4 separate regions of the Homo sapiens genome follow, and regions 1, 2 and 3 are each reported to be linked to region 4. The links are microRNA targets in miRTarBase. Many come from high-throughput screens and were not tested one by one. Region 4 holds a microRNA gene; each other region holds the end of a gene's coding sequence. Distances are between the middles of the regions.
Evidence for each region. Region 4 holds the annotated microRNA hsa-miR-4756-5p (CAGGGAGGCGCUCACUCUCUGCU, at 5,402-5,424, shown strand). A microRNA usually pairs through its seed, bases 2 to 8, with sites in the 3' UTR of a target mRNA and lowers its output. Matches are read on the target gene's strand: a 7mer-m8 pairs with bases 2 to 8, a 7mer-A1 pairs with bases 2 to 7 and ends in A, and an 8mer does both.

Region 1: the mRNA of ZNF496 is a reported target of hsa-miR-4756-5p. Seed matches in the 3' UTR shown: 7mer-m8 at 3,279-3,285, 7mer-m8 at 4,403-4,409 and 7mer-m8 at 4,759-4,765.
Region 2: miRTarBase lists SLC30A7 as a target of hsa-miR-4756-5p. Seed matches in the 3' UTR shown: 7mer-m8 at 7,946-7,952.
Region 3: the mRNA of SPEF1 is a reported target of hsa-miR-4756-5p. Seed matches in the 3' UTR shown: 7mer-m8 at 5,014-5,020.

The regions. Positions count from the first base shown.
Region 1 is chr1:247,295,566-247,303,691 of GRCh38, reverse strand. It overlaps ZNF496 (zinc finger protein 496), which reads left to right. Exons shown (of 10, transcript NM_032752.3): 10 at 2,416-6,277. The coding sequence ends at 3,173. Among named protein-coding and RNA genes, the nearest start is that of ZNF496, 32 kb to the left of the region's middle. RefSeq lists enhancers at 2,971-3,869, 3,870-4,769.
Region 2 is chr1:100,973,100-100,981,225 of GRCh38, forward strand. It overlaps SLC30A7 (solute carrier family 30 member 7), which reads left to right. Exons shown (of 11, transcript NM_133496.5): 11 at 1,711-8,126. The coding sequence ends at 1,758. Among named protein-coding and RNA genes, the nearest start is that of DPH5, 49 kb to the right of the region's middle.
Region 3 is chr20:3,772,571-3,778,471 of GRCh38, forward strand. SPEF1 (sperm flagellar 1) reads right to left here. Exons shown (of 7, transcript NM_015417.5): 6 at 5,851-5,901; 7 at 4,934-5,749. The coding sequence ends at 5,642. Among named protein-coding and RNA genes, the nearest start is that of SPEF1, 5.9 kb to the right of the region's middle. RefSeq lists a silencer at 5,511-5,760 and an enhancer at 5,896-5,901.
Region 4 is chr20:54,065,750-54,073,875 of GRCh38, reverse strand. MIR4756 (microRNA 4756) reads left to right here and starts at 5,391; the gene lies at 5,391-5,468. It overlaps BCAS1 (brain enriched myelin associated protein 1), which reads left to right and starts at 3,282. Exons shown (of 13, transcript NM_001366298.2): 1 at 3,282-3,443. RefSeq lists an enhancer at 3,689-4,563.

The DNA.
Region 1 (8,126 bases), not on the chromosome of region 4:
TTGCCTTTGACACTTTGCTTCGATACCTCCTCAGCTCAGTATCCGAGTTCCTTACTTACAATTTCTGTTTCCACAGAACAGTTGAATATGGTTTGGCCAAATTCTTTGCCACTTTATAATTGGAGGATCTCCTTTTCTCCAATTTCCTATAACGTCCGTATTTCTACCAGCCACTTCCTCAAGGCTTTTTAAACATGCACTTCAGAACTCTCCTGGCCTCTCCCCATGACCTAGTTCTAAAATCACTTCGACAGTTTTTGGTCTTTGTTTTAGCTGCACCCTACTTCCTGGTGCCAAAGTCTATGTTAGTCTACTGTGGCTACCATAACAAGGTACCACAGGCTGGGTGACTTAAACAACAGAAACTTACTTTCTTACAATTCCAGAAGCAACAAGTCCAGAATCAAGGCTTCAGCAGAGCTGGTGTCTTCCAAGGCCTTTCTCGTCTTGGAGACGGCTCCCATCTTGCTGTGTCCTCACAGGGTCCTTCCCTCTGTTGAAGTCTGCCTCCAGTCTCCTCCTCTTAGAAGACCAGTGATTTTGGATTGGCCCCACCATCTGACTTCATTTTGACTTAATTACTTCTTGAAAGACCCTATCTCCAAGTAATCACATTCTGAGGCTCTATGGGTTAGGGCTTCATCATGTAAATTTTCAGGGGGACACAATTTCGCCCATAACATGCACTGTCTGCTCTCATAATTCCATCTCCTCGCCCAGTTAACAAGTAAGAGATCTTAGCGGTCCACCTTGTCACTTTGTTTTCTTCTTCCACCCAAGTCCATTAACAGAAGTCAACTGCTGATCAAGTACCTTGTCATCGGCAGCCTGGTAAAAGTTACACCTTGCTCTTGTCTCCACCCCATGAGGTCCACAAAGTACATCATACACATGACCTCACCTGCCCCACCAGCAGCTTAGAGCAACGGGCTGCCACTGTCATTCTCACCTTGTAGACGAGATGACCCAAGCTCAGAGAAGCTGTCTGGCTGGAACGAGGTTCCTGCAGCTCGAAAACCAAGAGTCGAGATAAGCGTCAAACATAGCCTCTCGGCGGGCGCAGTGGCTCACACCTGTAATCCCAGCACTTTGGGAGGCTGAGGCAGGTGGATCACCTGAGATGGGTGGCTCGCTTGAGCCCAGGAGTTTGAGACCAGCCTGGGCAACATAATGTGACCCCATCTGTACAAAAAATTAAAAACACATGCACACACACAAACACAATCTCTGTCTTCATCTGATGATTTCCCTCCTATACTACGTGGGTTCTTGGCAGACTCAGTACCCACTCCCAGACTCATGTTCCCCCGACCCCCTTGTGACTGAGGGACAAATGCCCCCTCCGCTTCCACCATTGCCCTTTATCTCTCTGCTCTCCATAGCCTCTGTGTCTTCCTGCCCTGCTTCTGTTTGTCCAACTTCTCCTGTCCTGAGCTGCTCTGACTAGCCAGGGCTCTCCTCCCCACAGTCATGAAGCCCAGACTAACCATGTTCCTACTCTTATCTGGGAGGGCCTGGTTCACTCCCCCCAAGTTCTAGATTTGAGTTCTACATTTCACAGCAGTGAGGAAACAGGCCACCTGTATGGTGGGCTCTGCTCCATAAGCCGGGACCTCAGGCCGGGCTCTGCACTGTCCACCCAGCCCCGCCCCGTGGTTCCACCTTCCCAACATCACAGACTCAGGATGCAGGAAGTCCAGAGCAGCTTTATCCATCACCACCTGTGGCCTCAGAAATGCGGTGCTACTGGGAGCCGGGGAGCTGTGGGGGACCCAGGACTCTGGGCAGTCTGGGACTGTTGAGCAGCCTAGCAAGGCTGAGTAGCATTTCAGCCCTCCTTCCTGGCACAGATCACCTTAGTTTATGTGTAAACATGGCAACCAATAGGTCATCGGGTTGCGTCCAGGAGCAAATAGGAATGTGCATGTCAAGTCTAGCACAGTCCCTGGAGCATGCAAGTGCCCAGCACATGATATGTGTAGGTTGTAGAGTCTTCCTCTCTCAAGTCCTTTCACTATCCTGATAGAGCTTTCCCCCATGCCTTGTTAAGTGCATGATCTGTAAATGGTCAAGGCTTTACCCAGATAAATACAGACTCCTAGAGCTTGGGGGGATGGGGTGGTCTCCGTGGGTAGAGAACAAAAGGGTTGGGGGTGGAGATAAGGGAAAATGGCTGGGAAGAGGGAGAGCAAGGTGCCCAGCATGCTCTGGACACAGCGGGGCCCATGCTGAAGATTTCTTCCTCACAGGCTACACCAGTGGCCCCTGCAGGGCTGGCCAGGCCGCCCCGGTCACCGAGGACCATTGTAAAAACACGGGTTTGTAAACTCCAAGCTGAGTGTTCCTCCGCCGCGGTCATAGGGGCTGGGATGTGGCCTGTGCAGCGTCGCTGACCTGCATGTTGCCTTCCTGTAGCTGGCGGCAACCCGCGATCTCTAGAGAACAGCCTGGATGAAGAAGTGACCATCGAGATCGTTCTCTCCAGCTCTGGGGACGAGGACTCCCAGCATGGCCCGTACTGCACAGAAGAGCTGGGGAGCCCCACAGAGAAGCAGCGCAGCCTCCCCGCCTCCCACCGGAGCAGCACCGAGGCCGGAGGCGAGGTGCAGACCTCCAAGAAGTCCTACGTGTGTCCGAACTGTGGGAAAATCTTCCGCTGGAGGGTCAACTTCATCCGGCATCTGCGGAGCCGCAGGGAGCAGGAGAAGCCGCACGAGTGCTCGGTGTGCGGGGAGCTGTTCAGCGACAGCGAGGACCTGGATGGGCACCTAGAGAGCCACGAGGCCCAGAAGCCTTACCGGTGTGGTGCCTGCGGGAAGAGCTTCCGCCTGAACTCCCACCTGCTCTCCCACCGGCGGATACACCTGCAGCCGGACAGACTCCAGCCGGTGGAGAAGAGAGAGCAGGCGGCATCCGAGGACGCGGACAAGGGTCCCAAAGAGCCGCTGGAAAACGGCAAGGCCAAACTGAGCTTCCAGTGCTGTGAGTGTGGGAAGGCCTTCCAGCGGCACGACCACCTGGCTCGGCACCGCAGCCACTTTCACCTGAAGGACAAAGCCCGGCCCTTCCAGTGCCGGTACTGCGTCAAGAGCTTCACGCAGAACTATGACCTCCTCCGCCACGAGCGCCTGCACATGAAGCGCCGTTCCAAGCAGGCTCTGAACTCCTACTGAGCCTCTCCGCCTGGGGCGGCCTCACCCTGGCTGGTGCTGCCCCCTCACCTTGGTACTGATCAGCGCCCCCACCCAGGACATACCTTCCCCAGGATAGAGAGCACACCTCCCTCCTGTCCTTGCTCTCAGGTAGTGAGCGTTCGGGTGGTGCCATGGGAGCACTCTCCCTCCCCCAGGTAATGAAAGAGTGGCCAAGTGAGTGTTCTGTTTCTGCTGTGCCAAAAAACGGGGGGGATGTGCCATCACCAGGTTGGACATGCCAGGTGTTCTGCGTCTTAGAGACCCTTGGCCCATGCTCCCCAAGCTCGGGGAGTAAAACTGGGCTATCCCCCGTCAGGGCGGCACCCTGGTCACCAGCCAAACCTCAGTATACTCCCTCCCCTCCTTCCCTGTCTGAACGCTAGGATCTGCTCCTGAAGCTCCAGGATGCCTGCACTTCCACTGAGAAGCTGCTGGCGGATGTTGGACTAGAGGAAAGAAGAAGGCAGGGTGGGACTGATGGGCTCAGTGGGGAGCAGGGCCAGGCACACTGAGCCAGACATGTCATGTCTGAGCCCCAGATTCGTGGCCATCAGGTAGGCAGGAGCACCCCGCAGATCCAAGATGATCAGGCAGCCCTTTTGGGCTGGCCTCTGTGGCAGGGGTCTGCAGAGCTCCTTCTTGAGGTTTGGAAACAGTCGTCATACCTGTTGATTTTCCTGGGGGCCAATCACTAGGGATCTGGAGCTCACCAAAAACAAAGCTTACATTTTAATTTGTGTTGCACACCTACCCCATAATGTCTTTATACCCCAAAGATCCTTGGTAAATGCTTGTGGGTTGGAAGCGGAGTTGTCATCGTTTAAAAGGCACTTAAGTCCCTTCTTCCAATCTGTCCTGTCTAGGAATGTGGAGCTCTGCCCCCAGTGAGGGGTTCTCCTGTCTGGGTGAGCCAAGCTCCAGAACAGAACCTTGCCTGACAACACACTTGATAGATACATTAGCTTGGAGTGCTGGTGTGTCCAAACACTGGCTGGCTTAGAACAACAGGAGTGTATTCCCTGACAGTTCTGGGAGGTGCACGTCCAAGATCAGGGTGTCCTCAGAGTTGGTGCCTTCCGAGAGCTGTGAGGGAGAAGCGGCTTCATGCCTTTGCTGGCAGTTGCCATTCCTTGGTGTGTGGAAGCGTCACCCAGTCTCTGCCTTCATCTCCACATGGCACTCTTGCTGTGTGCGTGTCTGTCTCCAAACCTCCCTTTGTTTAAGGACACCAGTCATATCGGATTAGAGCCCATCCCACCGACTCCAGTATAACCTCATCTGTATCCGCAGCAACCGTTTACCAATAAGGTCACATTCTGAGGTACTAGAGGTTGGGACTTCAACATCGGAATTTGAAAGGGACAGCATTCAGCCCATGACTCCAGATAAACGTGAGGTATGCTATATCATTCCTAATTTACAGATGAGTCAATACAAACTTGAGTGAGCTTGCTCACAATTCCATCAAAGGCAGGGTTCAGACCCAAGTTTCAGCATTTAGGGCAGGTGTCCTCTGCATGGAAGAATCATACTCAATAGCCGTAAACGCTGACAAATTCCCCTTCCTCCCTGCCTTCTGATGGGGGCTGGGCAGGCCAGCTGGAGCTGTGTCTCCTGCTGGGATTCCGGACTGAGAGTGACAGCAGGTAGTGAAACCTCAAGCAATTTAAAACATGGTATTGTTCCTGGAAGACTGGTTATGTTGGCTAGGGTCAGCAAGAGAGGGCATCAAGGCTGTAGTCTAGCAGTGATTTAATCTGCAAGTCAAACCAGACGGGTATTTTGTATTATTCATATGTCACATCCTACCAACAGACAGTAAGTCAGGCAAGGCTCCTGGTGCTCCTTGTCACTCACGTAATTTTCACATCAGGAAAACTCTGGGCTGGGTGCAGTGGCTCACACCTGTAATCCTAGCACTTTGGGAAACCAAGGTGGGTGGATTGCCTAGCTCAGTGACACCAGCCTGGGCCACATGGCAAAACCCCGTCTGTACCAAAAATGCAAAAAATTAGCTGGGTGTGGTGTTGACGTTTGCGGTCCCAGCTACTCTGGAGGCTGAGGTGGGAGGATTGCTTGAGTCTGGGAGGCAGAAGTTGCAGTAAGCCGAGATCATGCCACTGCACAAGCTAGGTGACAGAATGAGACTCTGTCTCAAAAATAATTAAAAAGCCTCTGCCCCAAACTCGTTAAAAGATTTTATAACCACAACTGCTGTTTCTGTGTAGATGCATCTGCATGCCCAGGAGCAGTAAATGCAATAAAATCATTTGGTTATACTTTGAACACAAAATAAACGGTTGAGGCTTTTACTTTCTAAATAGTTTGTCTCTTGTATCAACATAGCTGGAAAAGGGAGAAATCCGATTTTTAAGGCCAAGGGAGGGGAAAATTCCAAGTAGAAGCCAGGCTCTCTGTACACGTTTACCCCACCTACCTGTGTGCTCCTACCTGTGCTGAGGATTCTCTCTGTAGCTCTAAGGTCTTGGGAAGGTTATTCACCTTCCTGCTTCAGACGTCTGACTCAAGAGAAGAACACTGTTCTACTTACCAGAGTGTTTTTCTGTGTAAAACCACATCATGAAGGAGAAAGCGACAAAGGGAATGTGAGGGGCTGGAAGCCACAGGGAGGCTGTCTCTTGAGTCCCCACCACTGATCCAGAGCCAACCAAGGCACCTCAGGAAATGGAAGGCCACATTGCCTCTGGATTTGGAAATCCTCCTGGGTAATGTAACTGAAACCCAGGTTGATGCCATGCAGCAGGAGCAGCAGGGGGAACGTGCTCTCAGGAGAGGTCGGCCAACCCTCCAGCCCAACACCCTTCACCACAGTGGTGGAGGAGGCTGCACCCAGGAGATCTTTGTCTCCCTTTTGGCCACTGATACCTTTGGCCTTATCTGACAACAGCTACCCCTCGATCCTTCCCTCCCACCCCAGGGGCTGGGCAGCTGGCTGGAGCTTTGTGTCCACCTTGCTCTGGAGGTTGAGACCCCCATCTGAGCAACATCCTCTCTCTTTGTTCCTCTGATCCCTTGGCATCGTCACAAACCCACAGGTGCATAATAAAAACTTGCTGAGTCAATATTCCTGTTAGGCTTTTCATTTTCATTTAAAAAGTAAAATGTGGCTGGGCGTGGCAGCTCATTCCTGTAATCCCAGCACTTTGGGAGGCCGAGGCAGAAGGATTGCTTGAGGTCAGGAGTTTGAGACCAGCCTGAGCAATATAGTGAGACCCCATCTCTAAGAAAAAAATAGAACAATTAGCCTGCCATGGTGGCACATGCCTGTAGCTATTTTGGGGGCTGAGGTGGGGGAAGATCCCTTGAACCCAGGAGACAGAGGTTGCTGTGAACGGTGGAGGTTGCTATGAACGGTGGAGCGCCACTGCACTCCAGCCTGGGTGACAGAGCAAGACTTCATCTCAAAAAACAAAAAGTAAAATGTGAAGCACAGCCAAAACATGTTTTCTAAGACCTGCAGGCTTTAGATAGTTCTGGTCACCTGATCTGGCCCCTCCCCAAAAGAAAGAAGAAGAAATAACTGTTTCATACGCTGGGAGTAGATTGTACTCCTGGTCACACCACAGCTTTAAGCCAACCTTAGTCGTTTTTCTCTTTTCTCTATCTCCCCAACTCTTGCCTCAGCTAGAAGAAGAAACAAATAAAAAAAGATGAGGCCATTGGTGGGAGGGTCCCTATCAGTCCTAAATCATACTGTGGCACAAAGGAAAGAGAAGGCCAGCTTTGAAGCCTGTGGAGATCTTGTCCAAGTCACTCTTCTCCTGTGAGATGGTTTCCCTTCCTCTGCCAAAAGCAGAGTTTGGATCAGATAGAAGTAATTCTGCTTGCAGAGTTACGTAGACGATTCAGCGATGATTATAGCACTTCAGCAATTCCATCAAATAAGCCCACTTTTTTTTCACCCCCCTAAAGACGGGCTCTCACTATTTTGCCCATGCTGGTCTCAGACTCCTGAGCTTCTCCCACCATGGCCTCCCAAAGTGCTGGGATTATAAGTCTGAGCCACCACACCCAGCCTCCAGACACACTTAGTATTAGCAACAAACACTGATACTGTTTGGTCTTGAAAGTGACGGTCAGTGCCCACTACTAGTCCATGCAACAAGGCTAGAGGTTAGAAAACTTGCTTAGGGCAGACTGGCCACAGGAAAGGGACTGTTGAAGGGACCACTGGAAGACCAGGTACCTCTAGCAGCCCAGACCCATGTATAGGGCAGCTGATAGAGTGCCAGTGGCCCAGCATCTGGGGGGTGGTTAGTAGTGATCATGAGCTCAACAGGGGCAAAGCCCAGGGGGTCCATCTGTACCTGTTTTGCCCATCAGATACCAATTGGGAACTTTATCTTCTCTTGAAACCATAGCCTGTAACCAGGTCACCATGATTAATGTGCATATAATTAGCAAAGTACAGAGAAGCCATAGAAATTCCCTGTGAGAAGATGCAAAACTCAGTGTGGGAAAGCAGAGTCCTCAGGAATACACGGAAGTGGGAGGAACCCGGGGCTTACCTCACACATCTTGGCCATAGCCGGGAATATCACAGGCAGGCCGACAACTGTGTGACAAAGGGCTGTCTTCTAATCACACAACCAAATGGCAGGAGAACCACCCTTTCTCCATCACCTGCTTTAAAAAAAAAAATACTATGGTTGTGTCTGTCCTGCCCCATTATATTAGTCTTGCTACACCTTGTCAAAATACGAAGAGGTTGGATACTTGCTATTTTCTACCTTTTTACGTGATGATCAGTCAGGCATAGCCACAAGAGAAGACAGAGGAGAGTCTCAGGAAAAGACGAAGTTTATTCTACTCACAGGTCCTAGAGACAGGAGGCACAGCAGGCCAGGCAGGGCCTCATGGGAAAGACACCAGGTGGCAGGAAGCAGAAGACAGGAGCAAGGAGAAGGTTTG
Region 2 (8,126 bases), not on the chromosome of region 4:
AAATATATTTCTTTTGCTGACAAGCTTCTAGAGCCTGCAAGCCTTTTATCCATTCGAGTAGTTCCTGAATCCTTTCAAGCACTCAGTATTGTACAGAGCCCTCCTACCTGAATTCTAGAAAAAAAGCCAAGCTAGGAAACAGTGCTTTGAGGAGTCCAGAAATTACTGTAAGAAGGTAGTGCTAATAGATTTTTTCCTCACTCTGATTTTTTTCCTATTAAATATTCCAATTTACCTTTTATTCTGTGGTACTGAGAAGAAAGGGCTTATTGTGACTAATGGGTTCCTTTAATTAAAAATAGATCATTTTGGGTTGAAAGAAGGAAATTAGTAGAATTTTAGTTAATTCAACAAATACTTATTGATCACTTACTGTGTGCTGGCTCTCACTTGAGGTTCTAGGAGTCAGCAATGTAAAGAAGAAGACCAAATCCTTTATCTCGGAGACATTATATTATAGTGAGAGGTCAATAATAAACAATAAACACCGTGAATAAGTTGTATAATACATCGCAAGGTGATAAGTTTACTGGGAGTGCTGAGGTATTTACCAGCTCTTGTACCAAGCTTTATTTTTTTCTTTAGCCTTTGGCGATTTCAGTTTTCAGAGAGGAGGAAGAACTAGCAGAGAAGACTGAGAAAGACTGATAAGTGAGGTAAAAGGGCAGCCAGTGAATATTCTCTGGAAGCCAAAAGGGAAAATATATATATCTATAGGCAGGAGTGACCATCTGTATTATTGCTGATAGGTGAAGTAGGAAGAAGAGGCCTGAGAATTGGATATTAATGTAAGCAATGTGGAAGTGACCTGGACACAGTTTGGGGGAAGTGTTGGGAAGCAAAAGATTGGTTGAAATGAGTTCAAGAGAGAAGTGAGAAAAAGGATTTTAGACAGCAAATATGGATAACTCTTTTGAGGCTTTTTGCTGTAAAGAAGAGCGGAGATGGGGAGCCCAGAAGGGGATGTAGGGTTAAGTAAAGATTTTTGTTGCTTTTTGTTGTTGTTTTAAATAGCTTTAGGGGGTACAAGTGCAGTTTTGTTACTAGGATATATTGCGTAGTAGTGAAGTTTGGGCTTTTAGTGCAACTATCACCTGAATAGTGTACATTGTACCCAAAAGATAATTTCTCATGAGGTTTTTTCAAAGATAGAAACAGCTACAGTGTGTTTGTATGCTAATAGAAGTGATCTAGTTGAGAGGAAGTAAATTGATAATACAGAAGATATTGGGGAGAATTTAGAGAGCAGTATCCTTGAGTAGCAAGTTCATATCCAAAACAGAAGAGAGAACTTGGAGTGCAAAATAATTCCAATAGATGGTTATACTTGCTAAATTGTTTACTAATCATTTATCACAGGAGGATTTAGACAGGGTTGATGTATCAATTTCAACTAGGAGCCAACCAGTCAAGCATCATGGTGTCCTCTAACAGAGTAACTGTAGAAGGTGAACTGCATTTTTCTAAGTATCACCTGGATATCTGGATAGGGTGTGTGACTGTTAACATGGCTCTTTTTTTTTTGTTTGTTTTTTTGTAGTGGTAAATGGAGATTATTTTTTGTAGCTTATGAATATATTTGTTTCTGAAATGATTCTTTTCTTTTTTTAAAAAAGTGAGATTTGTAAAAGAAAAAAAATACTTTCCTGAAATGTGTAGGGTGTTATTAGCTTGTTAGATTTTCTAACTTTTTTTTTTCTTACTTTTCAGGCTGGAGTGAGACAGCTCTACGTACAGATTGACTTTGCAGCCATGTAGTGAATGGAAAGAAATTATGCACCTTTTATGGACCAAATTTTTCTGGTACTGTACGATCCAAAACATTGTACCCAGCTTTTTAAAAGAGAGAAATTATCACTACAACTCCCGAGCACTAAGTAGACGGGGTAGAGTCAGCCGTTCATGCTTTGTGGGGAGTTCACAGCTAAGGGATCAGATTTAAGAGGATATCTCCTGGACTTTTGGTCTTTTCTTTTGTGCTCTTTCCTCCAAATCTTTTTGACTTCTGAGGTTTTTAGCTTAGGATGTTAATTTGTCCTTTTGTCTTTCTTTTTTTGTTTTTGTTTTCTGTTTGTTTGTTTTCATGTTGAATGCCCACACCACCATCCTCTCATCCCAGCCAGTAAGAATTTCAGTTGTGGGCCTCCAGTCTTCTGGAATGTCTTCACTGCAGCTGCTGGAAATCACTGCTTTCATTCCCACAAAACCAGTATTACTTTTTTTTAAAAAAAGAAAGAAATTGGAAATCTGTGCTATACGTAATGTCATAATTGTTGACGTTCTTCAGTATAATCATGTTTGTTAAATTGTTTGTACCTTGCAAACTTATGAACCAAACCATATTGGGTTTTCAAAGTGCCTTTGTATCCAAAAATGTATTTGCCAGCATAGAAATGTACCATCAAGAGTCATGTATGTTTTATTTTTGTTTTTATTTTTTATTTTTTGAGATGGAGTCTCGCTCTGTAGCCAGGCTGGAGTGCAGTGGCATAATCTCAGCTCACTGCAACCTCTGCTTCCCGGGTTCAAGCTATTCTCCTGCCTCAGCCTTCTGAGTAGCTGCGACTATGGGCGTGTGCCACCATGCCCAGCTAATTTTTGCATTTTTAGTAGAGATGGGGTTTCACCATGTTGGCCAGGATGGTCTTGATCTCTTGACCTCGTGATCCGTCCACCTCAGCCTCCCAAAGTGCTGGGATTACAGGTGTGAGCCACCACGCCCGGCTATGTTTTTTTTTTTTTTTTTTTTTTTTTTTAACAATGGATATTCTGTAAAATATCCTGTACAAAACAAGACTATTGCCAGTAATGTATACAAATTGTCTTTTTGTGTACTTCCAGCATAGGTTTGGATATATGAACATTTTTCTTTTATTGTTTTATCTTCACAGAAAATAAAAGGTGTTAATTTGCTTTTTAAAACAAATTTAATTATCACATTTTAAATTACTTTGTGGACTGTGTTTTCAAAACTTTGCAAATTCATCTGTTACACAGAAAATTTTGACTTAAAACATCTGCTGAATTCCAAATTTCTGTAATAGCTACTGTATCTGTGATAAACTTTCCTATATCTTTCCTTGCCATTTCTATGGATTTTATAATGAAAGAAAAAGGCATTGGAGACTGAAGGCAGAAATGGTTGTGACAGTGCTGTTTGGCTTTTTCATTCTTCAAATGCCAAGTCATCCACTTTGTTTTCCTGTTTAGGCTTTGCACAAATACAATTGCTTTCAGGAATCCTAAAGCAGCATTTTATTGAGTTTGAATTATTAAAGGTACAGAGGAAATGTGGTGATGTAGAACTTTTCCTAACACAGGTATCTAGGAAGTAAGTGCTGAGTTGATTTTCTAGGTTCTTACGTATTTGAAAAATAAAATTGCAATTCGAGATAAGTGCTTGAGCACTCTACTTAAGTATTCTCTGTGTTTTATGAAGAGAAAATGATCTGATTTTCCCTTATACTTCATTTTACAATACATATTCCCTTTTAACTTAAAAAAATTGTAAATGTGGGAGAAAAAACCCTGCAGGATGGAAACAATTATTAAGAATGTAGATCAATAAGTACTTTTTAGTGATGTGGCAGAAATCCCTGTTGATTCTAAGTTTTAGAGTGTCTTTTCCCCTATTTCTGACCTACAACTATAAACTACTCTCTATTAGGAGAACTAGACCACTTTCTTCATTCTTTTCTAAACTGCTGCAGATTGCCGTGAACTCTATCAATAGTCTCTTTTCCGCAGGCAAAGTGGCATTTTCTAAACATGTTTGCTTACTGCCAGGTGGTTTGAAATCTATGATTTACTGCAGTAGTATGTGCTTAAAACAACTGTTGAGGTCTTTTAAGCAGGAAAGTTCAAAAGGAAGTGTCCTGATAATGGTACTGGTTTTTCTACAAATATAAGTAGTCATTAGAAGTTTGCAACCACCACCAAGTCTGAGAGAACTCTGGGATATTCTGTGGGTTTTGGCATATTAGATAGAGAAAATGACAGATCTAGATGAAGGGAGCTTTTGGATGTGTGCCTTTAAAAACTGATTATGTATAAATACTGATATTTCACATACGGAGATATTTGAAGACCCAAGTCTGCCTTTCACAGAGCCCTCCATTCCAAGTTTAGTTTTTGTCAAAATATGAATCATTTTATTTGACTGTACTATCAGTACACAAATGCATGAGTATGTTTATACAGTGTTAGACTGATGTGAATTTGCATTTGTTACATTACATTGCCAGCGCATATCATTTAGCAAGTTGGCATTAACATTTATGCTTTAATTAAATGCCAGTATACCTATGTGTGCAGCAGTAAAAAATTAGTGAGAAAAAGCAACTTTTTGTCACTCTTAGGAAATATTTTGTCTTATTAGTGTTCTTGGCACATGTATATTACTAAAGTAGATAATTCCAATGAGAAATACTACCAGATTATTGTTATAAAATTAATTTACAATGTCCCTGATATTGAGCTAACTCTTAAAAAAACCAAACAAAACTCGTATCTGAGTGTAACTTTGCCAATATTTTAAAAGCCAAAATATTCTCTGGACAACAAATTTGTATTGCTCAGGGACAGTTTACCTTGCCTGGTAAACCTTCCCAAACAGAAATATAGCTATACTATCTTTGGTTTTGTTTTTTTGTTTTTTTTGTTTGTTTGTATTAGATGGAATTTCACTCTTGTCGCCCAGGCTGGAGTGTAGTGGCGCAGTCTCAGCTCACTGCAACCTCCACCTCCCGGGTTCAAGTGATTCTCCTGTCTCAGCTCCCTGAGTAACTGGAATTACAGGTGCACGCCACCACGCCCGGCTAATTTTTGTGTTTTTAGCAGAGACAGGGTTTCACCACGTTGGCCAGGGTGGTCTTGGACTCCTGACCTCAGGTCATCCTCCTGCCTCGGCCTCCCAAAGTGCTGAGACTACAGGTGTGAGCCACCGTGCTCAGCCACTAGCTTTGGTTTTTTAAACATAGATTATATTCCTCAAGATGAAGGGCTTAACATATCCACAGCTTCCTCAGTTTGCTAACTCCCCATGCATCTTTGTGAAGGACAGTATCTAGTTTATCTGTAGGTCAGTGTTCCTTGTGCTGTCATTTCCCTTATATCTGGAATTTGTCAGCATTCCTGAAAACCTACACGTGTATATCAGTAACCAAAATGCTATGCCTTTTTTGCACCTTTGTACAGCAGCCAAATCATGAACTCAAAATGTATTTGATCACAGTTCTATAATGTTTTTACCTACCTATTATGGAATAATCAGTTTTTACAGAGATTATTAATATGGTAGAACCCTGTTATGTAATTCCAAAACTTAAGAACCATATTTACATTGCTTAACACAGAATTTTACATCTAAGCAAGGACTGGCTTTAGAAGCAGTGTAGTTCTACCTCTCATTTTACAGATGAGAAAACCGAAGCCCAGAAAAACTCTCATTTGCTCAAAGTCACAGAGAAAATTAGTGGCAAAGCCAAAAAGATTCAGATCTTCTGACTCGAAGTTGAGAGTTCTTTATACTCTATTATGCTGCCTCTCCAGTGTAATATTTGCCTTTCTGTAAATGGGATTAAATATGATTTGTAAATAAAGGACATCTGACCTCCTTTTTTGGTACATTAAGGCACTTTATAAATGGACTTTTATTGTCTCATTTTTCGTATATAATTATTTCCATCATATTCTTTATGGAAGATGCAATTAATTTTAACTTTTTTACTCTTATAAAACCAGTTCCTGACATTTTAAAAAACAATATCTGTAAAATGGATCCTTTTATGAGTGAATTTTTCTGCTAATTGCCCAAGGCTAAATCCAATTTAAGGATTGCTTAGTTTCTTTATTTTGTTTATGGTCTCTGAACTGGTATTTTTTTATAAACCAGGCTAATTCACAGGTCATACCATTTCATTCTTGTCGTGTTGGCTTCCAGTCACTGGAAAAGCTTTTGCATTTTAAAGATTTTTAGAGCCATGCAAAACTGGGCATTAAATGTTGCATAAAGCAAATCTTTTAAGTAAGGTAAAATGTTGAAGTCTTAACCAGAATTCCTACAACTAATTACTAAAACTGCTATTTCTAACTCTTCATGAAAGCATTACCTTTGGAAAGTTAAACTTTTTTTTTCCTTTCATCACCGTCTTTGAAACAAATTATTTTCCAATTCATAAGAACTTTGGTAAAAAAAAAAATAAAAGGAAATTATATGTTTTTCTTTGGACATTCATTGGAAGGCTTGTTGAAGACATGATCCCCCAGAAGCCTTAGTGACCCAGATCTCAACCAGAGACTCAAGATAGCCTCAAATACAGTGAAAGATTATGTATCCAAAAAAAAAAAAAAAAAAAAAAGAAAAGGAGCAGGGAAGGACAGTTCTAGTTAAAGCCAAATGGATGTGAGTCTGACAAGGGTGTCTTTGATTTATATTTCCTAACTGCAAATTACACAGAAAGTGAGAATGGGGAATAACTTTTATTAAGTATTTATGTGCCAGGCGGTTAGTGTGGCCTTCATGTTATTACATTTAATCCTCAAATTTCTACAAAGGAATAATTTTGCATGATTTTATGATTGACGGAGCATTTTCAAATCTCCTCTAATTCTCATAACATCTCTGTGAGGAAGGAATTTTTATCCTTATTTTACAGATGAGGAAGCTGTTTGGAGATAATTTAAGTGACTTGCCTGGGGAATCTAGCCAGTAGTAGAGTACTGATTAATCAGGTGCTGACATCTGCTCTGCTTTGTGTATGTAATTCAGCAGTGCTTCAAAGATCCAAGAAGCTGTAGCAGATCTCAATACACTCTCCTATAAAATTAGTGAATAATCACCATGACAAAATTGGTATGGCGGAACAGTCATTATACATTATTTAGACTCATTCCTTCTTCCAGTGCCCTTATGATTATTTCCTACCTTTACCATTGATCTTAAACTGTGCAGGCTAAAAAGAGGAACCAGAACTCCCTTAAGCACTTTTAAGACTATTTAAAAAATAAAGTTTTGTTGGCATTGAAGAGTAAGCTGCTTAAGGGACTGAATGAAAAGATAGTACCCTTTGTGGCTGTATGAAGAGAGAAACTGAATTTCTATCCAAGAGACCTTAATTTAGTTTATTAGGGAATTATCTTCCCCAAAAGTACAAGTAATTTTGCACTGCAGGAGAAGGATAAGTAGATTTGATTTACATCACATTTTATACACACCTTTCAAAAGGAAGAAATCTGTTTCATAAATAGTAGTAATCTATGCTTAAACTTAACATTTAATGTTGACTTCTTACAACAGCCTTGAAAATTATTTGTAATTTTGATCATGATGTTGGAAAGCTTGTAATAAAGAATATCTTTCTCTTCTGCATCCTTTTATCCTCAAACTTAGCATGGATTCACATGCTGAGTAAATGTTTGGTTAACTAGTGAACATTTTAGATAGTTGTGTCAAAAATAAGGGTTAGGGATAGGTAAAACCAGTAATTTACTGTTTTTTACAGAAGACATCTCAGCATTTCTTTGGCATTTTTGCACAAATAAATGACTATATATTCACCTTGGCCATTTTTTTTTTTAAGTAGCCCTATGAGCTGCTCATTCTTTTTCATATACAGTGGAAGTATACAGATGTTATCCATTTTACAAATTGTTGGATCGGAATTTGACAGAATTGGGACTGTGGAACCTGGGTCACTTGAATTTTCTATATTTTGTATGGCCAAATCAGGAACCAGACAGTCTCCATAGTCTCCTTTGTTTTTATGGAAAATTGCCATATTCACATATTTCATTTATCCTAATGTATTGTCATCCAAAATGAAAGAGGTCTTTCTTGAAGGTGCTTTAAAGACATCACTACATGTATTCAATTACTGATTTAAATATTCCCAGAATTATTTTTTACCTTTCTCTTTTTCCTCTCAAACACAAAATTTTAGTAGTACCTCCCTCTATTTCTTCACTGATTTTTCATCTGTTTTCATTGTTATTTCCACTATAGAACTTCTACTTTATACTAGCGGGGAAAATTTTTTTATTTAGAATTTTAATATTTGAATTTTGTTTATGTATCACATACTGTGCTACAGTTAGCCTCAATGAAGATTCTATTTTGAACTAGACAT
Region 3 (5,901 bases), 50 Mb from region 4:
GAAAGACTGACATATTATAAGGAATTGACTCACACAATTATGGAGTCTGACCAGTCCCAAGAGCTGCAGGTTGGGTTGGCAAGTTGGAGACCCAGGAGAGCCAATGGTTTAGTTCCAGTCTGAGTCCCAATGCCTGAGAGCCAGGAAAGTCAATGATGTATCTCCAGTCCAAAGGGCAGCAGGTTTGAGACCAAGGAAGAATCAATGTTTCAGTTTGATCCCAAAGGCGAGAAAAAAGCTGATGTTCCAGTTCAAAGACCACCAGGCAATAAAAATTCTCTCTTATTTGGGGAGGGCCAGCCTTTTTCTTCTATTTAGGTCTCAACTGACTGGATGTGGCCCACTCACATTAGAGAGGGAAATCTGTTTCACTCATCTGCTGATTTCTTTCTTTTTTCCTTTTGTTTTTGAAATGGATTCTCACTCTGTTGCCCAGGCTGGAGTGCCGTGGCATGATCTTGGTTCCCTGCAACCTCCACCTCCCGGGTTCAAGCGATTCTCCTGCCTCAGCTTCCTGAGTAGCTGGGGTTACAGGCAATCACCACCACGCCCGGCTAATTTTTGTATTTTTAGTAGAGACGGGGTTTCGCCATGTTGACCAGGCTGGTCTTGAATGCCTGACCTCAGGTGATTAGCCCGCCTCGGCCTCCCAAAGTGCTGGGATTACAGGCGTGAGCCACCGTGCCCGGCCTCATCTGCTGATTTAAATGTTAACCTTAGCCGGGTGCGGTGGTTTACCCCTGTTTTCCCAGCACTTTGGGAGGCCGAGGCGGGCGGCTCACTCGAGCTCAGGTGTTCGGGTCAACATGGTGAAACCTGCCTCTACTAAATACATAAAAATTAGCTGGGCATGGTGGCATGAGCCTGTAGTCCCAGCTACTCAGGAGGCCGAGGCACGAGAATCACTTGAACCCAGGAGGTGGAGGGTGCAGTTAACTGAAATTGTGCCACTACACTCCAGCCAGGGTGACAAAACAAGACTCTTCTCTCAAAAATAAGAGTAAGACAAATGTGCATGTTTGTTTATAGTCACATAAAGTCATTCCGGAAGGATACATAAAAACTAAAGATAGAGGTTCCCTATTAGAGATGTGCTGGGAATAAGAAGACTTTTCACTTTTTATGTGTTTTTTTTAAATCATATATATGTTTTATCTATTCAAAACATTAAGTAACAAAGTTTAAATACCCTTGCATGCCTTCCTCTCCTGTAGGGTTGTGAACACTGGAGGGAACAAATCATGTTTTATACTCACTTTTGTATTCCTGGTATTTAGTACATAGTAGGTACTCAATAAATAGAGGAAAGAACGAATGAATGAACCAGAAGATAGCAGATTTAGTGTCGGTTAGAGAGAGGAGAGGGGCCAGGCACAGTGGCTCACACATGTAATCCCAGCATTTTGGGAGGCTGAGGCAAGAGGCTCACTTGAACCTAGGAGTTGGAGACCAGCCTGGGTAACAAAGCGAAATCCTGTCTCTACAAAAAAAAAAAAAAAAAAAAAAAAAAAAAAAGCCCAGGAGCAGTGGCTCACACCTGTAATCCCAGCACTTTGGGAGGCCGAGGTGGGTGGATCACCTGAGGTTAGCAGTTCGAGACCAACTAGGCCAACATGGTGAAACACCATCTCTACTGAAGATACAAAAATTAGTTGGGCGTAGTGGCAGGTGCCTGTAATTCCAGCAACTCAGGAGGCTGAGGCAGGAGAATAGCTTGAACCTGGGAGGCAGAGGTTGCAGTGAGCCGAGATCATGCCGCTGCACTCCAGCCTGGATGACAGAGTGAGACATCTCATAAAAAAAAAAAATTAGCTGGATATGGTGGTATGCACCTGTCCTCCCACCTATTCTAGAGGCTGAGGTGTAAAGATTGCTTGAACTTGGGAGGCTGGGGTTGCAGTGAGCCAAGATTGTGCCACTGCACTCCAGCCTGGGCGACAGAGTAAAACCCTGTCTCTAAAAAAGAAGGGAGTTAGGGCTGGGTGCGGTGGCTCACGGCTGTAATCCCAGCACTTTAGGAGGCCGAGGCTGGTGGATCACCTGAGGTCAGGAGTTTGAGACCAGCCTGACCAATATGGTGGAACCCCGTCTCTACTAAAAATACAAAAAGTAGCCGGGTGTGGTGGCGTGTGCCTGTAATCCCAGCTACTTGGGAGGCTGAGACAGAGGAATCACTTGAACCAGGGAAGTGGAGAGTGCAGTGAGCCGAGATCATACCACTGCACTCCAGCCTGGGTGACAGAGCAATACTCTGTCTCAAAACAAAAAAAAAGAAAGAAAGAAAAATTTTTTAAAAATTAAATTAAAAATAAGGGAGTTATAATCTTATCTAATGTAATCACAAAAGTTGACATCCTATCACATTTGCTGTATTCTACTTATCAGAAGCAAGTCACTAAGTCCAGCCTACATTCAAGGAAAGGGTACACATGGGGGTGACGTCCAGGAGGCAGGGATTACTGGGAGCCACGTTAGGAGCTGTCTACTACAAGGAGGAAAAAGCAATGAAAGGATGAAATCTAGGATGGTGGTTATCTCTGAGTGGAAGCAAGGGGGAGAGATGCAAGAAGCACATGGCCGGTGAAAGTTATTTGTAATAATTCCATTCTTGGGGCAGGTGGTGGATTTATAGGTGTTCATAAGTGAGTTGATTATGGACAAATGGGGAGAGAGTGTCATGAACCAAGGATTATATTTAGTCCAATTCAGTAATATTTAAAATATTCAATAATAAATGAAATAAAAATTGCCAACTACTCCTGACCTTGTTCTGAGCCCCATCCATGCACTCCACCTGGTCTTAGTTTAACACTGGCTCCACCTGACCCTCCACTTGCCCCAAACTAACCGTTAGCCCTTCACACACACTGACCCTTGCTATAGCACCACGATCTCTCCATAGTCTGCAATAGGCCCCCGGAGTTCTATTCCCTGAAACTTTTATCCATGTAACCTCACCTGTAGGCTGCTATATGTAAAGATAGTAGGAATGGCTGATGGAGTGGCCCGAGGACCAGGAGACAGGGCAGGCTAACAGTTCTGCCTTAGCAGTAGCACTGTGGGCCCAGAAGACAGGTTTGATGGCTGGTATCACGACCTCACCTATTGGCCTCCTACATGGCAAAGGCTGGGCCAGGTCCTGATGGTTCTTCCTCTTTGAGGCTTCTGCTCCTGGTATCCAGATATAGCTAAGTCTGTCTCTGAGAAGTGCACCTCTGCCACAGCACCAGGCCTGTAACTCCCTTGTTGGTAATAGACTCTATCAACTCTCTCCTTTCCTGTCTTTGATGAAGTAAGCTACCATACTGGAGATGGCTATGTGTCAAGGAAATGAGAGTGGCTATTGGCCAACAATGAGTAAAACACTGAAGCTTTCAGTTTGACAGCCCACTAGGAAGTAAATTCAGTCAGCAACCAAGTAAGCCTGGAAGCCTGGATCCTTCCTCAGTTGTGCCTTCAGATGAGACTGCAGTTCTATTGGCCCTTTGCTTGCAGCCTTGTAGGAAACATTGAAGTGGAGGACCCAGCCAAGCCTGGCCTGGACTCTTGACCCACAGAAAATGTGAGATATAATAATAAGTATTTGTTGTTCTAAGCTGCTACATTGGTGATAATTTGCTACACAGTAAGAGATAATGTATACAGGTTCTTTTCATTTCTTTTGCTATTACAAAGAGTGTTTCTGTGGGCCAGGCATGGTGGCTCACGCCTGTAATCCCAGCACTTTTGGAGGCCAAGGCAGGTGGATCACTTGAGGTCAGGAGTTCGAGGCCAGCCTAGCCAACATGGTGAAACCTGTCTCTACCAAAAATATAAAAAATTAGCCAGATGTGGTGGCATGCACCTGTAATCTCACATACTTGAGAGGCTCAGGCAGGAGAATCGCTTGAACTCAGGAGGTGGAGGTTGCAGTGAGCCGAGATCGTGCAATTGCACTCCAGCCTGGACGACAGAGCAAGACTCCATTTTAAAAAAAACAAAACCAAACAAAAAGAGTGTTGCTATGAACGTTGTTGTAACATGTCTCCCAGAACACAGAACACAAGAGCCTAGGTTTCCCTTGGGTATGTGCTGGGTATATGCCTAGGAATGGAATTGTTAGATCTCAGGATGTTTGTTTTGTTTTGAGACAGAGTGTCCTTCTGTTGCCTAGGCTGGAGTGCAGTGGTGCGATCTTGGCTCACTGCAACCTCTGCCCCCCAGCTTCAAGCAATTCTCCTGCCTCAGCTTCCCAAGTAGCTGGGACTACAGGTGCCCGCCACCACGCCTGGCTAATTGTTCGTATTTTTAATAGAGATGGGTTTTCACCATTGGCCAGGCTGGTCTTGAACTCCTGGCCTCAAGTGACCCACCTGCCTTGGCCTCCCAAAGTGGTGGGATTACAGGCCTGAGCCACCATGCCCAGCTGGATCTCAGGATTTACAAATGTTCCACATTACTGGTAGTCAGAAAACCATTAAAGTTAGGGTCATGCCATGGCTGTAGTGTGTTGGCCAGGGTTGGGAGTAAAGCCTGGCCTCAATCCATGGAAGTTGGGATTGTCTGTGGGCAGGGTTGGAGTCGTACAGAGGGCCGAGTTAGGGGTCAGTCCTTACGTAGGGTTGAGGGTGAGTGTGTGGCCACATTTGGGAACAATTTGAAGTCTGGTTTGGGGTTGGGTTTGGACAAGGTTGGAGAACACTGTGAGGGTGGGTTTGGGGGTCAATCTAAGGCCAGGGTTAGAAGTTAGGCTGTCATCCTGTGCAAAACCTGACCCCTGGTGATATCATCAACCTACCAAGCTGTGGCCGCACAGGACCCAGCCACCCACAAGATGAGATCCACTCTGGGTCCAGAAAGCTCTTTCACTCAAGGCGGGGGTGGGGAGATGGAGGACAAGTGAAGAAGAAACTGGCTCCCCTCAGATGCAAAAAGAGAAGGCAGGCACAGGAAATAGAACACAACACTGACTTTAATGGGGCAGCCCTGAGCCGTAACCTTCAAACCTTCCGCCTCAGTACCCCGTGCGCGAGGAGGGAGGGGCGACTGCTACGGGCACATCGTCGATGTCCTCCCTACTCCTGGCGATCCCACGCCTCACCCCTTCCTCTCCAGCTGCTGCGGTCTCCGTCGCCGAGGTGGGTCCCAGGTAAGCTCCCAGGAGGGGCAGGGGAGCCCCTCAGCGGCCCGGGACAGATTCCCCCATGGCTGAGGGCATGGGGAACTAGCCTGGATGGAGACGCCGCCGTCCTCGGAGCTGGGCGGGGACCTGATTCTGGGGGTGTGGACAGAGCCAAGGGACCGCCCCCCAAGGCCCAGCGCCGGGAGATGCAAGGCCGGGCCCAAGGTGTTGGACACTGCTTTGGGGGACAGGCTAGGTCTCTGCACGTGGCTTCTGGGCTCTGGAAAGCGGTCCATTCTCCTGACCCGGATCTCCGGAGTGGTAGGAGGCGGCTCAGTCCCGGGCCTGCGCTCCTAGAGTTCCTGTCCCATCTCCTCCCACGCTCACCCATCCCAAGGAAGGAGGGCACTCGGGCCCCAGCAGGCTCGTGAGAGCAGCGGGCTCCGCCCTCCCAATGGTCTATCCATCGGTGGGTGGGTCCGGCGCGGCGTCGGGGCTCTGGCGGGTACCCGGGCGTCCCCGCGCGGCCCGGGCCGCCGCTCACCGCTGCTTACGCTCCGCCTGCTGGAGCCGCCGGGAGAGGTCTTCGATCCGCACATTCTTGAGCTGGAGCAGGTGCTCCAGGCGCCTTACCTTCATCTGCAGGACCTAAGCCGCACCGCGCAGGCGTCAAGCCTGGCGGTCTGCTCCCTCCTGCCCGGCCTCTGCTGGCCGCGAGCCCCCACCCGCAGCCTTCCTAGACCCCTCACCTGCACGGTCTCTTGAGAGGCCAACAGCTCCTGCTCCTTTTCAGCGATCTG
Region 4 (8,126 bases):
CAACAAAAGAATCCTATCCTAGCCTTTCTTACCCAGGTTACCTCCCTGTAAGGGCCAACCACTTGTGCTGAAAATGATAACATAGCAAGACAGAAATATAGGGCAGCTTAGAGTTTCTTTTTCTTTTGATTTTTCCTTATTCATCAATAAACTGAAGATAGAGAGCATTAGTAGAATGGGTGAGTATCCAGAGGTAGAGTAAAAACAGTTGAATGATGACTTCTATGCAGCGTTTACACTGTTTTAGTGAGAACAGACTACGGGGGCCCCGTAACTAACTACAAAATACAAGTCGTATGATTTTGGTGATTCTGCCCTCGAGTTCATTGCATTTCAAACCAGCATGGCTTGATCTAAAGACGGATGGCAAAACTCACGCTGATCACTTACATTTTTATTTTTTCTTCCCTTAGAATGACTTCAAATAATAAGTAAAATACATGACAGGTAGAGAAAGAGACCAGGAAGGAGAGAAAACAGCTTTATGTTTCATACCTTTAACGGTACTTTTCCCTGCTTTTAGAACAAAGGGCTCATCGTTTTTGTTTTGCACTGGGTTCAGCAGATTATGTAGCCGGTCCTGCCTCATCACCACTCCTGACTACACCAGCTGATGCTTGGTGATGGTCTACAGTTTGCCAGACCCTTCATCACCACTCCTGACTACACCAGCTGATGCTTGGTGATGGTCTACAGTTTGCCAGACCCTTCATCACCACTCCTGACTACACCAGCTGATGCTTGGTGATGGTCTACAGTTTGCCAGACCCTTCATCACCACTCCTGACTACACCAGCTGATCCTTGGTAATGATCTACAGTTTGCCAGATCCTTCATCACCACTCCTGACTACACCAGCTGATGCTTGGTGATGGTCTACAGTTTGCCAGACCCTTCATCACCACTCCTGACTACACCAGCTGATCCTTGGTGATGATCTACAGTTTGCCAGATCCTTCATCACCACTCCTGACTACACCAGCTGATGCTTGATGATGGTCTACAGTTTGCCAGACCCTTCATCACCACTCCTGACTACACCAGCTGATCCTTGGTGATGATCTACAGTTTGCCAGATCCTTCATCACCACTCCTGACTACACCAGCTGATCTTTGGTGATGGTCTACAGTTTGCCAGACCCTTCATCACCACTCCTGACTACACCAGCTGATCCTTGGTGATGGTCTACAGTTTGCCAGATCCTTCATCAACACCCTTGACTACACCAGCTGATGCTTGGTGATGGTCTACGTTTTGCCAGACACACTGCTGAGTGCCCCCACCTGAATGATTTTTCTTAATCTCCTAAATCACTCATATCCCTAAACCTTATGTTTTTCTTCTGTAAAATGGGAGCAAAAGATCTTAATTTCACTGTGGACATAAATGAAATGGACGGATAAACACAAAAGGCTTTGCAAAGACTAATGCCATCCAAATGGCAGTTACTGCCATGTATAATTTAAAAGAGAGCAAGACAATGGGGAGTGTTAGCTCACGCCTATAATCCCAGCACTTTGGGAGACTGAGGCGGGTGGATCACTTGAGGTCAGGAGTTCCAGACCAGCCTGGCCAACATGGAGAAACCCCACCTCTACTAAAAATACAAAAATTAGCCAGGCATGGTGGTGCACACCTGTAGTCCCAGCTACTTAGGAGGCTGAGGCAACAGAATTGCTTGAACCTGGGAGGCAGAGGTTGCAGTGAGCCGAGATAACACCACTGCACTCCAGTCTGGATGACAAAGCAAGACTCCGTCTTAAAAAAAAAAAAAAAAAGAATGAACAAGTCCAATCAGCCAGGAGTTGCAGAGTACCTACTCTATCATAGAGGGATCCCCATCCTCGTTTTGCAGGGTGCCAGGAGTTGGGGATACAAGAATAGATGCAAAATAAACACAAAGGAGCACACAGCTGAGGGGGCTGACAGAGACTTAGGGAAGTACAGTAGCTTGCTCATAATTCCACAGCCGATCAGTAAGAATCAAGATCCGAGCCCTTGTCTGTCTCAACCCAGGGCCAGAGCTCAAGCTCCTGAGCCTCCAGGCTTGGGTCAGCACAGAGCGTGTGCATGGCAGCTGCTTAATAATTGGGTTTACTACATTCCAGATTGACATGTACAGTGCTGAGCTGGAATCGACTTTACAACCCTAATTACGGTGTGCCTGGTTGTGTATTCAGCATTTATTTAAATAGTATTTTTTTTCTTAAATGTTGATTTCTGAAAGAGGCCTTCCCCAGCTCTCTCTATTTCTCTCCCTTAGCTGCCTTGGCTTTTCTTTTATAATGAGAATCACACCCTGTAATTCTATGTTTATATTTACAGGATTCTATGTCCAATGACACTGAGTGCAAGAAGGGTAGAGACCCAGCATCTTTTACTCACCTCTTTAAACTCTGGCTTATATATATAGCCTGGTGCTTGACAAGTATTCATGATAGGGGTTAAGCTGAGTATACTGTTGAATAAAACCACAATAATTATTGGTCGCAATTCTCTTGAATGTCTTCTCCAGAGCACTAAGTAGTGTAACTTATCAAGTTTCCTTTCTTGCATTGGCTGTTAGGAAGCTCAAAGCCATATCTGCAAACCCTTCATAGCAAGTCTGTAAATCAACAAGAGCATTTATTTTTGATCCTGTTCTCATTTGATGTTCCAAATTTTGTTCTTCAATCTTCTTTTGTTACATGTTATTTCATGCTCTCATAATCTATTGTATATGTCCTTGTAAGACACTTTAAACAACATCCTTGCTTGAATTAAATAAATTGCATAGCCTGTCGAATTTCTGGCCTGCAAAGAAAAAGAATGCCCTTTCCAACATCATGGTATGTCTCCAGAGCAATAAACCACCCTCAGGTTACCTGATTTCTGGTGTCCAAACCCCTTTGGGAATAAGGTTTACATGACTAGGGGTAGTTGAGTGGATGAGAAGCTATTTCCTTCCAATTAGGTGGTTAGGTGGTGGTGGAGGTGGTGTTCTGAAGTCAGCAGACAGAACTACAAAATCTCACAGAACGTGTTTTCCCTGCTCTGACCATGACCTACGGTTACTGGGGAAGGAAACTGCTTCCCCAGGTCAACCCGGCAGCCTCAGTAGGTGAGGGGCACTGGGTAGAATACTTGGGGTGCCAGGGAGGCATTAATGCGAGAGGAGTCAGGTGCTCAGTTTTTATTGGAGTTGGGAGGGCAGCCCCACATCAGGAAGAGAACCTGTTTCTGCAGGATGGTCCGGGGAGAAGGGAGGACTCCACCCAGGCTTGTGTTTGCCCTGCTCTGTGTATTCAGCCAGCAGGCTCTGCACAAGGAAGCAAAGTGCAGGGAGCCAGGCTCCACCGACAGCCAGGCACTGGGCAGCACGCACTGGAGACCCAGGACCCTGTGCAGGAGCAGCTCCGGGTGACACGAGGGGACTGAAGATACTCCCACAGGGGCTCAGCAGGTAACTGCTTTCAGATCCTTTAGGCATGGCTGGAGGGTTTGCTGTTTGTGGTAGACGGTGTCATATAGAGGCCAGGGGTCAGACAGGGTCAAGTTTGATCCCAGCTCTGCCTTCTGTTCACTGTGTGGCCTTGGATATGTGTAAGCCTCAGTTCCACTATCTGTGAAATGGACCCAAAGATAGCACTCATCTCAAAGTTTTTAGTTTTACAAGGAGCAAATGACAATGTGGTCAGTGTTAGGCGCATAGCCACATAAATAACTCCTATTTGGTGGAACTATTGAGGGTCATTTCAAGCACAGGACATGGGGAGAAGTCACTGGATGGAGGGATAGGCTGTGTGATTTGGGGATCCGTCAGGGCAAGAATGCCCCATAGCCGAGTGGAATCTGAGCCTTCACCTCAGGCATTGCCTAAAGAAGTGGGAGGACAAGAAAAAGGACTTGTGGAGTGCCTTTTGTGAATCTTATTTAACGCTCAAGACCACCCTATGAGGCAGCTGCTGATTCAAATCCTGGCTTCAGGACCCCTGCTGTTTACATCTCCCTCTGAACCAGTTTCCTGCCTGGAAGAGTCATTGCGATTAGAATGCGGGTGCGCTGCAGCCACACCGCCAGATGCCAGCCCCAGCTCCACCCTGGGCTGGCTGGGTGCCCTGGAGCAGGTTCCCTCAGCCCTCTGGGCCTCAGTTTCCTCATCTGTAAAGTGAACCTAATAACAGTACTGAGATCAAAGGGCTGAGAGGACTCTACTGCCCGTAAATACCTGTGCACTTAGTAACTCTTAGCTGTGGTTCTTGTTTTCGCTGTTACCATCGTCTCCATTTTACAACTAGGAACATGAAGCTGGGTGAAGAGGGAGCTGCATCTGGTTCCAGGTCTCATGGAAAGGATGCTGTGGAACTGGAGTCCAGTCGGGCCTGGGATGAGGGTGCAGCCAGTGAGACTCTCACCTTGGGCACGAAATGTAAGGGATGCCAAAAAACTCAGTCATGGAGATAAACGGTATGTTAACACAACATTTTTAAAAGTCAGAATTAATGGCAAGACACCCGTGATGAACAAACTATGAACATGTTACAGAAAGATAAGATCAGGAACAGCGGTAATTTTGATTTTCACAAATTTCATGTTAAAATACTATTCATCTCCATGGCTGAGCTTTTTGGTGTCCCTTACATTGTTCCCCCGGAGTCCAGGGCCTGATCCGCCTCAGCCTCCTGGGGATCCTGAGCTGATCACAGCAGCTTCAGGCCCTGGGTGTATATACTCAGGGTATGTAGAGGGTGCTTCCTCCTAAATAAAGACAACAGACGGGGCGGGGCATGCTAAAGTAGTTTCTCATTTAAGTGAGGGTGGGGGAACAAACCAATGTCCCAAATCACAGAAGATTCTTTTTTTCCAAAGAGTTCTGGAACCCAGAAGGGTTTTGTTTTTAGGAAAAAGGCATGAGCTTTGGGAAAAGCAATGGGCCCGTTAAAGCCCATGGATTCTGCCTGCTTTACCATGACAAGAGATGTGGAGGGAGAGGAATTGAAAAAGGCTTTGGGTTGGGGGCGGGGGTACCTTTGCACCTTGCAGGCTCATCTGTCCTGCTGGAGTATTAGATGTGACTTGATTGTCTCTGTGTCTGCAGCTTCTCTTCAAGCCAAGTGCCCTGCCCTGAAGCAGTTCAGGATTTGAGTGCCTGAGTCACGTGGACCCAGGTTCAAACCCCAGGTGTGCCTCCCCGTAGCTTTCTGACTGCTACTCTTGGGCAAGTAGGACTAGTAAGGTGCCTACCCTCATGGAGGTGACGTTCGTGAGATGAGGGGATGGCATTGCTCAGCCTTGGTTTCTTTATCTGTGCAATCAGGGAATAATGGGACTCTGCAAGGGAAAAGGAGACAATGTGTGTGAAGTGCCTGGCACCAGGGTCAGGGCAAGGGTGAAGCCAGTGAGCACCTGGGGGATAAAATGCAGGGAGGCGCTCACTCTCTGCTGCCGATTCTGCACCAGAGATGGTTGCCTTCCTATATTTTGTGTCCTGCTATGCTCACCCTGGTGCTGCCTGGCACATAGTAAGCCTCCAATTAAAATTACCTGCGATTATCATGCACTTAACAATGTTTGGTGCAATAATAAGACTATGAGAGCGAGCTCTAAGATTTTTAGGATTACCATCCGTTTGTGCAAACATAATTAAGTACTCCGAAAGCAAAACATCAATCACCAAGCAGCCCTAAAACATCCAAGGTGATTTTGATCAAGGCACCCCTGCCCCTGGACCCACAAAGTCCCATACCAGGAATCAGGGCTTGGGCAGTTCAGTGAGGACTGGATTTCAGTTCCCTGTGTCCCCTTGTACAGGAGGCAACCTGTAGCACTGTACCTGGCACTCCTGATAATAGCTGCCGTGTTCCTAGCACTGTGCGGGCACACACATGGAGCTGCAGGACTGTGGGGCAGGCAAAGCGGGGTTGTTCTTTCCTCCTGCAAGGTCTTTACTGATGTTGGGGGCAGAGGGCTGGTTCTGCTGGGTGTGCCAGCCTGGCCATGTTGGCGTCACCCTCAGCTGAGCAGTGAGGAGGGCCCCTGGGTTACCTACATTCCATTGCATTGATCGAAGGTGTTGCTTGTTTACTTGGTGACTAATTCTGTCACCATTCCACCCTTCAAAACCACCCCCCCTCCCATTCAACAGTCGTCTAGCTGCCTGCTGGTGATGAAGTTTCAGAAGTGCTTTCTCCAGGCCAGCTTGCATGGGGTTTGGCGTTTGGCCTGTTTCCAGGAGGAGGGCCTATTATTAATCTGTAACTACAAGGAGGCGACATGGACCATCAATCACTGTGTAAAAGAGGAGGGATTTGAGGGCAGCTTCCAGGAGGCCAATTCACTCATGGATCAGAACACAGAACTAACTCAATTATAACAATAATAAGATAAATGAATAATATTAGCAATAACTAACGTTTACTCACCTGAGTACTGCCAAGCCCTGGCGCTAAATCCTTACAGTGATTATCAGTGACCCTTCAATTGTTCAATCCTCACTTTATTTGATTTATTTATTTACTTATTGAGAGAGTTTCATTCTGTCGCTCAGGCTGGAGTGCAGCGGTGTGATCTCGGCTCACTGCAACCTCCGCTTCCTGGGTTCAAGCGATTCTCCTGCCTCAGCCTCCCAAGTAGCTGGGATTACAGGCATTGTGCCTCCACATCTGGCTAATTTTTGTATTTTTAGTAGAGACAGGGTTGCGCCATGTTGGCCAGGATGGTCTCAAACACCTGACCTCAAGTGATCCACCCACCTCAGCCTCCCAAACTGCTGGGATTACAGGCATGAGCCACAGCGCCCGGCCTAATCCTCACTTTAGATTGTACCATATATATTCCTTGCCTAGTTATAATTTTCTCATTGCAAGAATGAATATGCAGGAAATATTTTCTATTCCATGTTCTATTATATTACATATAAATATTTCATAAAACTATAACATCACTTATACAGCAGAAGAGACAGTAGAAAGTATGAAAATAGAAAAGTTAAAAGTCTAAACTCTGGACTTGAGTTTGCGAGGGTTAAGTCCTCATTCTCCCACTTACTAGAAGATGATCTGTATTAGTCAGCTTGGGCTGTGGTAACCAAAACACCACAGACTAGGTGGCTTAAACAACAGTCATTTTTGTTTTCTCATAGTTCTGGAGGCTGGAAGTCCAAGATCAAGGTTCTGGCCGATGCATTTCTGGTGAGACCACTCTTTCTGGCTAGCCAACAGCTGCCTTCTTGCTGTGTCCTCACACGGTTGAGAGAGAGACAGAGAGAGCTCTTTGGTGTCTCTTTTTATAATGACACTAATTCTATCAGATCAAGGTCCACCCTTCTGATTTCATTTAGCCTTGATTCCTTAGAGGCCACATTTCCAAATGCAGTCATATTGCACGTTAGGGCTTCAACACGAATCCAACACGAATTTTGGAAGGACACATTTCAATCCATAGCATGATCTTAAGTGAGGAGTTTAAGTTCCCTGGGCTCAGGTTCTGCATCTGTAAAATGGGGACAATAAAAATACCTGCCTCGGCCGGGCCCGGTGGCTCACGCCTGTAATCCCAGCACTTTGGGAGGCCAAGGCGGGCGGATCACGAGGTCAGGAGATCGAGACCATCCTGGCTAACACGGGGAAACCCCGTCTCTACCAAAAATACAAAAAATTAGCCGGGCGTGGTGGCAGGCGCCTGTAGTCCCAGCTACTCGGGAGACTGAGGCAGGAGAATGGTGTGAACCCGGGAGACGGAGCTTGCAGTGAGCCGAAATGGCGCCACTGCACTCCAGCCTGGGCGACAGAGCCAGACTTCGCCTCAAAAAAAAAAAAAGAAAAAAAATACCTGCCTCATCGGGTTCTGATAAGGAAGCTGTGAGTTAACACAGAGAAGCATTCAGAGCAATGGCTGGCATAAGGTAGGCGCTACAAAAATATTAGGTATTACTACTGCTAATGTATGGTCCATTTTATTTACTGCTTATACTAACAGCTTATCTCTATTCCTCAGCTGCTGTGCACCAGCCACCCAGTTATACAACACATGGGCCACACCCTTCTAATCTTCACAGGAGCTCCACGCAAGGAATCTATTATGGTCCTTCCCTCCACCCCTCACTTCTCAGACACGGAGCCAGGGCTTATGCATATGGCCAGGGTGA